Linked DNA regions of Homo sapiens: regions 1, 2 and 4 are each linked to region 3. The links come from fine-mapping of genetic effects on gene expression. A gene starts in region 3. Each other region holds a variant in brackets. All regions are shown on one strand. Distances are between the middles of the regions. Region 1 overlaps LOC105370265 (a long non-coding RNA gene). Region 2 has its middle 64 kb from the start of KCTD12. Region 3 holds the start of KCTD12 (potassium channel tetramerization domain containing 12). Region 4 overlaps LOC105370265 (a long non-coding RNA gene).

Region 1 (2,500 bases), 120 kb before region 3:
AAGGAGGCCAATCTCCTCTTTTATACTTCTCACAAATTACTATAATGTCATGCTCAAATTATTTGTTCAAATCATCTTGGATTAAGTGGAAGTTTTATGAGTGTTTCTTATACTATTCTTGCAACCTTTCTATATGTTCAAAAAATTTGAATGGTTGGGGAAAATAATCTTTGATGAGAAAAATCGGGGAGGTGTTGGATATGTCTATTACCTTGATTGTGGTGATAGGATCACAGGTGTTTACATATGTCCAAACTCATTAACATGTATACATTAAATATATGCAGTTCTTTGTATAGCATTATACCTCAATACAACTAATAGTCTGTGATGAAAATTCAAGGAATATAACCAATATTTTTCTCCCTCTGCTATGTACCAGATGCTCCTTAATCCTTCCAAAAAGCAGCCCTTTTAGATAGGCCCTTTGATCATTTTATAGGTGGGAAACAGGCATCTCAAAATCATGTCCAAGATCACGCAGCTGAGAAGTAGCAGATTCTGGATATGAATTTAACTCCTTATGTCGTTTCCACCAGACCATGTAGCCTAAATATTACTTCTCACTGGTGTACAGCTGGTGATTAATAAATGCTTATTGAATTGAATTAACTGTACAGAGATGAAATCACATGGCTATCTACCCAGGGAAATTATAATAATTATAGAGATTAAATTTTATTGAGAACTATGTGCCTGGCATTGCATCAGATAAGCCTTTATTATATATCTCAATTAATTGTCACAAAATTTGTTTTTGACATAGCTACAATTATGTTCCTCATTTTAAAGATGAGTGAAATAAAATCCAGACAATTTAAGTAACTTCTCCAAGGCCTTTGTTTTTCAGCCTATTTTCTGTCTTATCCATAGTGAGTCTATTCTATTGATCTGTCCTCAAATTCACTGGTTCAGTCCTCTATCATCTCCATTGTGCTACTGAGCCCATCCAGCTAGGTTTTACTTTGGTTACTGAATTTTTTCAATTCTACAATTTTCATGTTTTTTTAATGACTGCTACTTCTTTGCTTAGATTTCCTAATTTTTTATTTGTTTCAAAAGAATTTTTTAATTGTTTCTGGGGAACTTTTATAATGACTGCTATAAAATATTTGTCTGATCACTTCCACATCTGCTTGCTTCTCTCATGCATGTTGTGATCTTCCTGGTTTTTAGAATGACACATGACTTTCTATTGTATTCTGGGAATTGTAGATATTCTATTATGAAACTCTACACCCTATTGAATCTTCTGTTTTTAGCAGGAAGTCCCCTTGGGAAGTGCAGTGCAAGGGTTGGGTGGGTGTGTACTTCCAAGTTCCCACTGGGCCCTGAAAACCCTCCCTTGGCAAGAGT[G/A]GGACACTGACTCACACTGCTTCATTGCAGATAGGTTGTTCCTATTCTGCTTCCTCTTCGGCTCTGGTGACACCTTCCTGGTGAAACAGGACACCAACTCCCACCCCACTGGGCTCCACTGACACAAGGTAAGGAGAGGGAGGGAAGCAGAGCACCAACTAGCCTGCCTCCCATCACATAATTCTGTCTTGTTGCTACTGGATGGGGGTGGATGCTCAGCTCCCCACTTGGCCCCACTAACACCAGAAAAAAAAGTGCAGCACGGATGAACCCCAGCATGTACTTAAGTCTCATTGCTGCTGGGTCTAGATGGAGACTCAAATCACCACTGGACCCCACTGACACCAACCTGGCAGGAGAATTGCACAGCCTGGTTTCATTTGGTCCTGCTAGCACCATCTGGTAGGAGAATGGAATCTTCTGCCCAGCAGGGGGTAAGGGGTAGAGGGGCATTTTTCCATTGGTGGTTGGCATTTGTCTAGAGTAGGGTAGGTACTGCCAAAATGCTTCCTGGTCCTTTGCCTAGAAACAGGCCTTTGTCAGAGCTTTTTATGTCTGTGCCTGTTTGTGGCTCTGGTTTAAAGGCTTCTACAGCACCTGTGCAAGATACTCAGGAGGAAATAAGAGAGCCCAGGAGCTCACCACAGTGCCATTCCTCAGGTCCTGAAGTCCTGGGCAGCTCGGCCTTCTTTCGCTTTTCAAAGACTTCCAATGCTGGTGTGTTGTATTAAGCCCAAGATTTTTAGTTGTAAAGGACCTACGAGGAATGTATCTACCCCATCTTGGAGGAACCAGAACGATCTAAGGTCTTATAAACTCATAAATAGTGAGGCCAGAATTTGAACCCAGGATGTCTAGTCACAGGAACTGTTTTTTGTTATGCTAAAACTAGTAATAATAAAAACAATTATATATTAGCTTGCTAGGGCTGTCATAATAAAATACCACAGAGCAGGTAGTATAAACAACAGAAATTTCTTTTCTCACAGTTCTGGAGGCTAGAAGTATGAGACCAAGGTGTTGGCAGGGTTGGTTTTTGCTGGGGCCTCTCTCCTTGGCTTGTAGATGGCTGCCTTCTTGCTATGTTCTTATAGGCTTTCCTCCATATGTGTCTGTGTCCAAATTTTCTCTTATTACAAGGCTA
Region 2 (2,500 bases), 64 kb before region 3:
GGTGGGGACACAGCCAAACCATATCAGAAGCCAATTGAATCTTTGGCAAAATGTTGCTGTGGTGGACTGGTGCATTAGTCCATTTTCATGCTGCTGATAAAGACATACCCAAGACTGGGCAATTTACAAAAGAAAGAGGTTTAATTGGACTCACAGTTCCATGTGGTGCAGGAGGCCTCACAATCATGGCAGAAGGCAAGGTGGAGCAAGTCACGTCTTAAGTGGATGGTGGCAGGCAAAGAGAGCTTGTGCAGGGTAACTCCCCTTTATAATACCATCAGATCTCATGAGACTTATTTGTATCACAATAACAGCATAAGAAAGACCAGCCCCCATAATTCAATTATCTCCCACCAGGCCCCTCCCACAACATGTGGGAATTATGGGAGCTCCAAGATGAGATTTGGGTGGGGACACAATTCCAAACCATATCAGCTGGCACCCAGCTAGGGTAAGCAATGTGTGTTATCCACAAAAAGGACAGAGGAGGAGTGGGCAGGCGTCAAGCCTTACCTGTCTGTGATTCCCACTTCCCTCTCTGCTCCTGCTCTTGCTTCCCATCCTTGATCACGGGACCTTTCTCGCTTTCCACTCTGCTTCAGGCACTAAACCACAGAGGATACCCTATTGCTCTCTGCATTTCCATCTTCCTTTCTGCCTATCTGTCCACTCGCTTCATTTCCTTTATTATGCTAGAGATTCCAAATCACCAGGAACCCTGAGTTTAAATTTCAGGCTCCACATACTGTGTTCAAGGTAGTTTACTAGGGGAGCCAGGGAAAAACAAGTCAGCAGTTAATTCTTCAAGCAAACACGCTGGCAGAAACAGATATGACCCTTCAGCTTCTCTCACTAATCTGGAAGCACTGGTTTTTATCTGAATAGTGTTGATGATGTGTTGGGTACCTTCTGAGACCTATAAATCCTTATGACTACTCCATCAAGTGAATGTCATTATTCTCATTTTGCAGATAGGAAGCCTGTGTAACTCAACTGAGGGCACACAGAATAAGGGACAGACCCAGGATTTGAACCCAGGCAGACTAGCTTCAGAGACAGTGCTCTTAACCACTAGCTAGTTACTGAGACATGTCCATTTTATAATGCAAACTTAATCATGATCTACAGAAAGGGTATATTCTAAAATTCTTAAAGCAAATTTTCACAAAACATTTTATTTTAATACGGAGAATGGTTCAATGGAAGAAAGCTTATTAATACTTCTGTCTGATGGAATCAACCCAAATGCCCATCAATGATAGACTGGATAAAGAAAATATGGTACATATACACCATGGAATACTACGCAGCCATAAAAAG[G/C]AACAAGATCATGTCCTTTGCAGGGACATGGATGAAGCTAGGGCCCTTTAAGTGTTTTTCCTTTGTCATCTGGTACGATGTTAAACTCTGTCAGTAGAGGGCTCTGGAGAAGCATCACAGAAGGAAAGTATTTAGTTTCCTGGTTCTGCTGCATGGCCTCCAGGCTCCTTTAGACTTCATAGCTTCTCCAGGCTCCTCCTACAACACAGCACAACACATGTGGCTTCCCAGAGCCCAGCACCTGCAGTGGAGCAGCTTCTCCAGGGCTCAGCTCCCACAAGGTACAGTGGCCAACATCACCCAGCAGCCAGCAGTACCCCCAACAACCCCCTTGGGCAGATTTGTAGCAGAGTTCCTCTGGTGAGATACCTCCTTGTGAACAGCTGTCTCCAACACCCTGGACAGGAACTATCAAGTTCCTGAGGGCTAATTTCTAGATAATTTTGTCAGCACAGTATCACAGGGACTTGTCTGCCATCCAGTCAGCCACAGCTATATCCTCTCCAACAAGGTCTGGATCTCAGCCCTTTGATACACTTAGCGTATGTGCATTTTCTATTTCCTTCCGACCTGGACGTCTACTCAAATATGCTTTACCTCTTGGCTCTATTATTTTCAAAATTTAGGTTTCACTATTTTATTGTGTGTATACTTTCTTTAGTCTACTTTAAATTATTTGTGTAATGTAAAGTCTAGTCATGGAAATATGTATGCAGATGAGGGTCATACCTATTTAACTTGCTATACTCCATTCCCAGAAAAGAACCAGGCTCAATGCAGTAAACCAATTCTTTCTGATGACAATAATGAGGCTGATGATCCAAAGTCATTCCATCCTAGGTTAGACTTTCCTATAACTGAAATTAGACCCTTAGAAGTTTAAATATTAGTACAAGGAATGACAAAGCCATTAGAGACACCCAAATCAAATTCTGTTTTCCTAAACAATGCCTGAAATTCATGTGGCCTGAGCCAGGCTAGGAACTGATTCAGGAGATACTAACTCCAGAGAGATGGAGGGAGGTAGATGTGGAAAACTGGAATGAGACACAACAGAAATTTCAAACTGGAGTCACAGAGCAGAGGGTGACAATTTGAGATTAACACAGAAGAGGTTGGTGAGCATTGCAATGATTAAGAAATAAGGTCTCAGATGAAATTCCCAGGGTAGCCCCACATT
Region 3 (2,500 bases):
GGTCCCGGCTTTCGTTCAGGGTGTCCCCAAACACCTCCTTGGCCAGCGACGTCTTTCCGCAAACGGTGATGCGCGCCACTCGCCGGAACTTGGCGTCCGCCTGCGCGTCCCGCCCGATGGTGTAGGAGCCGCGGTAGCCGATGGTGATGTAGCCCGAGCGCCGGCTGCCGTCCAGCGACTGGGACGGCGTGAGCAGCGGGCCCGCCGCGCCCCCGGACGGACTGCGGCTAGCCAGCTCCAGCGTGGGCGACGGCGCCCCGGCAGAGGCGCCCTCCTGCTGTTCGGGCTCCGAGTAGCCAAGCGGCAGCAGCTCGTCACCCAGCGAGCCCTCCTTGTGCACCCCGCGCCGCGAGGGCGGCGGCCCCGGGCCGGGCTGCTGGGGCGCCCCGAGGCGGCGCACGAGCTCTGGCAGCTCGAAGTACTCGGCCTCGCGCTGCAGCCGGCTGCGCTCGGGGAAGTAGTCGGGCAGCACGAGCTGCAAGTCCCGCAGGTAATCCAGGATGTAGCGGAAGAGGAAGCCGTCCCGGTCCAGAAAGAAGCGGCCTTTGCTGTCCCGGGCCAGCTCCTGCGGCTGCTGCTGCGTGAACATGCGCCAGAGCAGCGAGTCGGGCACCGACACCACCGTGCAGCGCCGGGTCACGTACACCTGGCCCCCCACGTTCAGCTCCACGATGTCGGGGAAGAGCGGTGGCTCCGCGGAGGACGACGAGGAGCCACTGCCGCCCCCGCCGCCGCCCCCGTTGGGTAATCCACGTGTGCTGTCCGCCAGAGCCATGACAGAGAGGTGGCCGGGCCGGGACAGTGGCAGGAAGCCGCGCTGCACTCAGGAGCTGCAACCGCCTTCCCCGGAGCCCCGGAACCCGGACGCTCGCTCAGCCCTGCGCCCCGCCGCCGCCGCCGCCGCCACCGCCGCCACCGCCACCGCCGCCACCTCCTAGAGCCGCGCGGAGCCGAGCGGTGCGAGCGCGCCGCTGTGCGCCCCCTTGAGTTCCAGTGCGCTCCGCCCGCCTTGCCCGCGCGCTCCAGGCGAGTGCCGGGTCGCGGCCCGCGCGCTGCTTAAGTAGAGCCGCCTGCTCTGGTGCCGTGGCGCGCAGGAGGCGTGGGCGGCGGCGGAGCCTCGCTTACCGGGCGAGGGGAGGTGGGGAGCGGGGACTCGATTTGCATCTTAAACGCGGACGCCACGCGGGGCTGCTGGCTCCACCCCGGCTCGCGAGCGCTGGGGGCGCCCGGACTCCCACCCGCTCCCCACCCACCAGCCCCGCCCCGTGGTCCCGCCCAACTTTCTCCCTCTTCCGAAGAGGACCCGCCCGAGACTTGGCGGCTTCGGAAGACAGCTCCTTGGAGGGACAGTCACCGCGCCCCCTCCCCTCTCGCCCCAGCCCGCACCCAAGGACTCTGGAAGGAGGACGTGAACTTTCGGAAGCCTGTCGCCCCGGGAGTGGAAATGCGTGGCCGCCTCCGGCCCTCCCGCCTGCGGAACTGGGCGCTTCCAGCAGTGCAGCTGCGGCCTGCCATCGTTGGTTGTCGTGTCACTGAAAGTAGAGAGACGCGAAAAACCTGGAGAGACGAAAGAGCCGCCCCAGTCCGAGCGCAGCCAGATTTTGTTCAAGTTGCCTTGCAGCCAGCCTGGAAAATAAATAAATAAACCTAGAAACAAAAAGCAAACCTCAGTGTCCCGCAGTAGGATGCTTTACGATAGTTTATTTTCTGGCTGCAGAGACAAAATGAGATGAAGCTTCAAATCTGCTCTTAATTGCAATTCCCTCTTCCCGCAGGGCCTTCGAGGCACTTCACTTCGAAGTGAAGGGGTAAGACTCCGGAACGTTCGGTCTCCGGGTCCCATTCAGCCTTCGTTGAATCGCGCCCTTAGACTCACAACAGTTGCAGATCTAACGTAATTTTTAAAGCCACCTTTGGCGCCTGCATGTTTATCCTTCCAAAAGTCCAGGCGCCCCTTCTCTCCCGCATGCCTCGGTCACTCTTCGGCCCTGTCCAAGTTCCCGTCAGTCTCAGAAAGGGATATTTATATATCTGAAGGCCCTTGTCTGGATCCCATCTCTCAACTCCTGCTGCCTACACGTTTGCTTTTCCCCCTCGGACTGCAGCCCACAGAACCGCCCCCTCCCCCTGGAAGCTTTCCCTGGCTTCCCAGGTGGGTGGGGCCTCTGGATGGCTCCCTACACACTGTCTGCGCTGCTCCCAGCACGTTCTGAAATGTCATATTTATGAGTGATTATCTGATCACTGATTTGGGTATGAAAATAAGTAAGAGCTCCTGAATGCTGCAAAAAGAGAAGAGTGCAGAGGAGGGTGTCAAGAAATGATTGGGTCACTGAATGTTTCTTGTGTACCTGCTATTATTTGCAGGGCACCAGGGAGTGAGGAATGCAAAGGCGAATAATCTCCAAAGCGCTTTCAGTGTAGCCCAATAAGCAAAGGGTCAGGGGTCTGCGCAGTTATCACATCAGTTTGAAGTATAGACCACACATCAGGATAAATC
Region 4 (2,760 bases), 150 kb before region 3:
TTAAGTTATGACCAATCAAGGTAAGCAGAGGTGATGTATGAAACTTCTGAGAAGTCTTCTAAGGCAGAGAGCATATCCTTCTTCACCCTTCCTTCATCCCACTGCCCAGAACATCACAGTGATGGCTAAAGCAGGAATGGCTCTTTTGGAACATGTAAATGAAGCCTGCACCTTAGGAACTGTGGAGGTGAGAGCAGGAAGGGGCCCAAATACCTCATACCAGCCAGGAACTGCCTCCCTCTCAACTTTTCACATGAGAGAAATATCATGTGTGTTTAAACGTATTTAAGTTCTCTGTCATGTGCACACTGGTGTAATCTTATCTGATACAGGACTTAAAACCTGAAATTGGAGAGATTCGTGACAACATTTAAAAATATTGCAATGGCTTAGTAGATGCAATCAAATAGTTGGCATTGAGAATTTAAGCACTGAGGTCTGGAAAGCTGACAGCATTCATTTTGCAGTGGTAAAACCCTTGGTCAAAATGAAACCCTCTGACCTTAAAAGGCAGATGACCTGCTGACTGAGGCTGCAGTGTAAGGAAAACGTAGTGTTTGCTAGCTCCTTCTTGCCACCTTTTGCAAAATTACTCAAGGTCGGAGCTAATGAGTCTGCAAGCAGAGATGAAGGAAACATCACTTGGCTGAGGGAAGCACTCTCTGCTTGTGGCCTCCCCTACAACTTGACAGAAAGACTCATAATCTGAATCCTGGCAGGGTTGAAAAAGTCAACATATGTACCCCAAAGTGAAGAGGGATTTTGTGGCAGCAGCAAAGCAGTAGCCTTAGCAGGAGATAAGAATGGTGTCCTGTCCTACAAATCTTATGAGCTTGCAAGCCAAAAATAAAAATAAAAGTGGTGTTTTGCTAAATAAATCCACTGTTAAAGCCATCATTAAGTTGGTAGAAGGGAAATAGGAAAAGCAAAGCCAAGAGATCAGTAAATTAAAGGCCAGAGACTTTAGAGTTAAATATAATCTCTCAGGGCCAAGGCAAGGGTGAGAAAGAAGAAGGCCCGGGGGGCCCAGTGTGGTGGCTCACTCCTATAATCCCAGCATTTTGAGAGGCTGAGGTGGGTGGACGGCTTGAGTCCAGGAGTTCAAGACCAGCCTGAGTGACAAAGTGAGACCCTGTCTCAAAAGAAACAAAACAAAACAAAAAAGGAAGTGCCCAGCACACAAAACTAAAGAAGCCCTCATTCTCAGGCTTGGGCAAGGGCAGAGCAGCACCTGACAGTGCATGCCTCCTTCCACTTTGTGCTTTGGGCACCTTCTTTGCCTCCACCTAGTCCAGGCCTCTATCATCTCTACATAAGATATTTCACTGTATGTTTCTTACCTATGGAACTGACCAGAAGCAAAGCAATTGTAAGCCTTTTTGTACTGCTAAAGCAACCTCAAACCTAGCCTACAAAAGACAGTGACAGATCAGTCCTCAAAGCAATGCTCAGGTCCTGGAACTACATCGTGGGGACTTATGCAGCCACAAGGCTTCTGCAACCTTCAGTTGGGCATTCTCTGAGGC[T/A]CACCTCAGAATCAACATGGGGACAAATGAACAAGGAATTAAAAATGAGAGAGCAAACCCAGTGGCCACAAGAAACAACAAGCAAGAGAGAATATCCTCCATGGACTAGATTCAGGACTTCCCAAGGGAAAAACCATGGCGCTTCCTCTAATGCCAAGGCAGAGAGTCCCACCCAGCAGGTAAGACAATTGCTGTGGAACAATTACTGCCATTGGTTCTCCACTCTTTTTTTTTTTTTTTTTTTTTTTGAGACAGAGTTTCACTCTGTCACCAGGCTGGAATGCAGTGGCACGATCTCGGCTCAATGCAACCTCCAACTCCTGGGTTCAAGGGATTCTCCTGCCTCCACCTCCCAAGTAGCTAGGATTACAGGTGTGCGCCACCACACCCAGCCAATTTTTGTATTTTTAGTAGAGACAGGGTTTCACCATGTTGGCCAGGATGGTCTCGATCTCCTGACCTTGTGAGCCGCTGGCCTCCACCTCCCAAAGTGCTGGGATTACAGGCATGAGCTACCGCACCCAGCCTCCACTCTCTTTTTCTAAATGGGGCTTTTGTCATAATTGTGCTCTTCTTACTCTGCCTTGGTATATTGGATGAGTATGGGGGAAGGGACCTATGCAGTTCAATTTCTGTGCTGCTATGGCACACAGAGCTGCATCTAGAACTGATGACAAGGTTTTCTAGTTATGGAGCTCAGTGCAGTTATTGGATGGTCTTATGGGTTGAATTGTGTCTGCCCCCAAATGCCTGTGTTGAAGTCCTAATCCCCAGGACCTCAGAATGTCGCCTTATTTGGAAATAGAGCCATTGCAGACGGAATTAGTTAAGACGGGGTCATACTAAAACAGGTGGGCCCCTAATCCAGTATGACTGATGTCCTTCCAAAAAGGGGAAATTTGGACAAGACAGCATGCAAGGAGAACACCATGTGAAGTGAAGGCAGAGACTGAGGGCTGTTTCTACAAGCCAAGGAAGGCTAAAGACTGCCACAAACCACCAGAAGCCAGGGGACAGCATGGGACAGATTCTTCCTCACAGCCGGAAGAAGGCACCAACCCTGCCAACATCTTGATCTTGGACTGTCTAGCCTCCAGAACTGTGAGACAAATTTCTGTTGTTTAAGCTATTCGGTTTGTGGTACTTGGTTATGGCAGCCCATGTGAATTAATACAGATAGGATTTGGGCATTATCTGCTCTGAGGAGAAGGTAAGGGTGTAAAGAAGAAATCAT

Evidence for each region. PIP is the estimated chance that this variant, and not a neighbour inherited with it, causes the effect.
Region 1: its variant is fine-mapped to the expression of KCTD12 in whole blood (TOPMed, PIP above 0.99).
Region 2: its variant is fine-mapped to the expression of KCTD12 in whole blood (TOPMed, PIP above 0.99).
Region 4: its variant is fine-mapped to the expression of KCTD12 in whole blood (TOPMed, PIP above 0.99).

The regions. Positions count from the first base shown.
Region 1 is chr13:76,763,274-76,765,773 of GRCh38, forward strand. All of the region lies in intron 1 of LOC105370265 (a long non-coding RNA gene), which reads right to left. Among named protein-coding and RNA genes, the nearest start is that of KCTD12, 120 kb to the right of the region's middle. The variant G/A (reference allele first, on the strand shown) is at 1,357.
Region 2 is chr13:76,821,454-76,823,953 of GRCh38, forward strand. No RefSeq gene overlaps it. Among named protein-coding and RNA genes, the nearest start is that of KCTD12, 64 kb to the right of the region's middle. The variant G/C (reference allele first, on the strand shown) is at 1,321.
Region 3 is chr13:76,885,374-76,887,873 of GRCh38, forward strand. It overlaps KCTD12 (potassium channel tetramerization domain containing 12), which reads right to left and starts at 1,032. Exons shown (of 1, transcript NM_138444.4): 1 at 1-1,032. The coding sequence starts at 775. RefSeq lists an enhancer at 47-546 and silencers at 160-429, 830-1,259.
Region 4 is chr13:76,735,357-76,738,116 of GRCh38, forward strand. The region is part of intron 1 of LOC105370265 (a long non-coding RNA gene); the gene reads right to left. Among named protein-coding and RNA genes, the nearest start is that of KCTD12, 150 kb to the right of the region's middle. The variant T/A (reference allele first, on the strand shown) is at 1,527.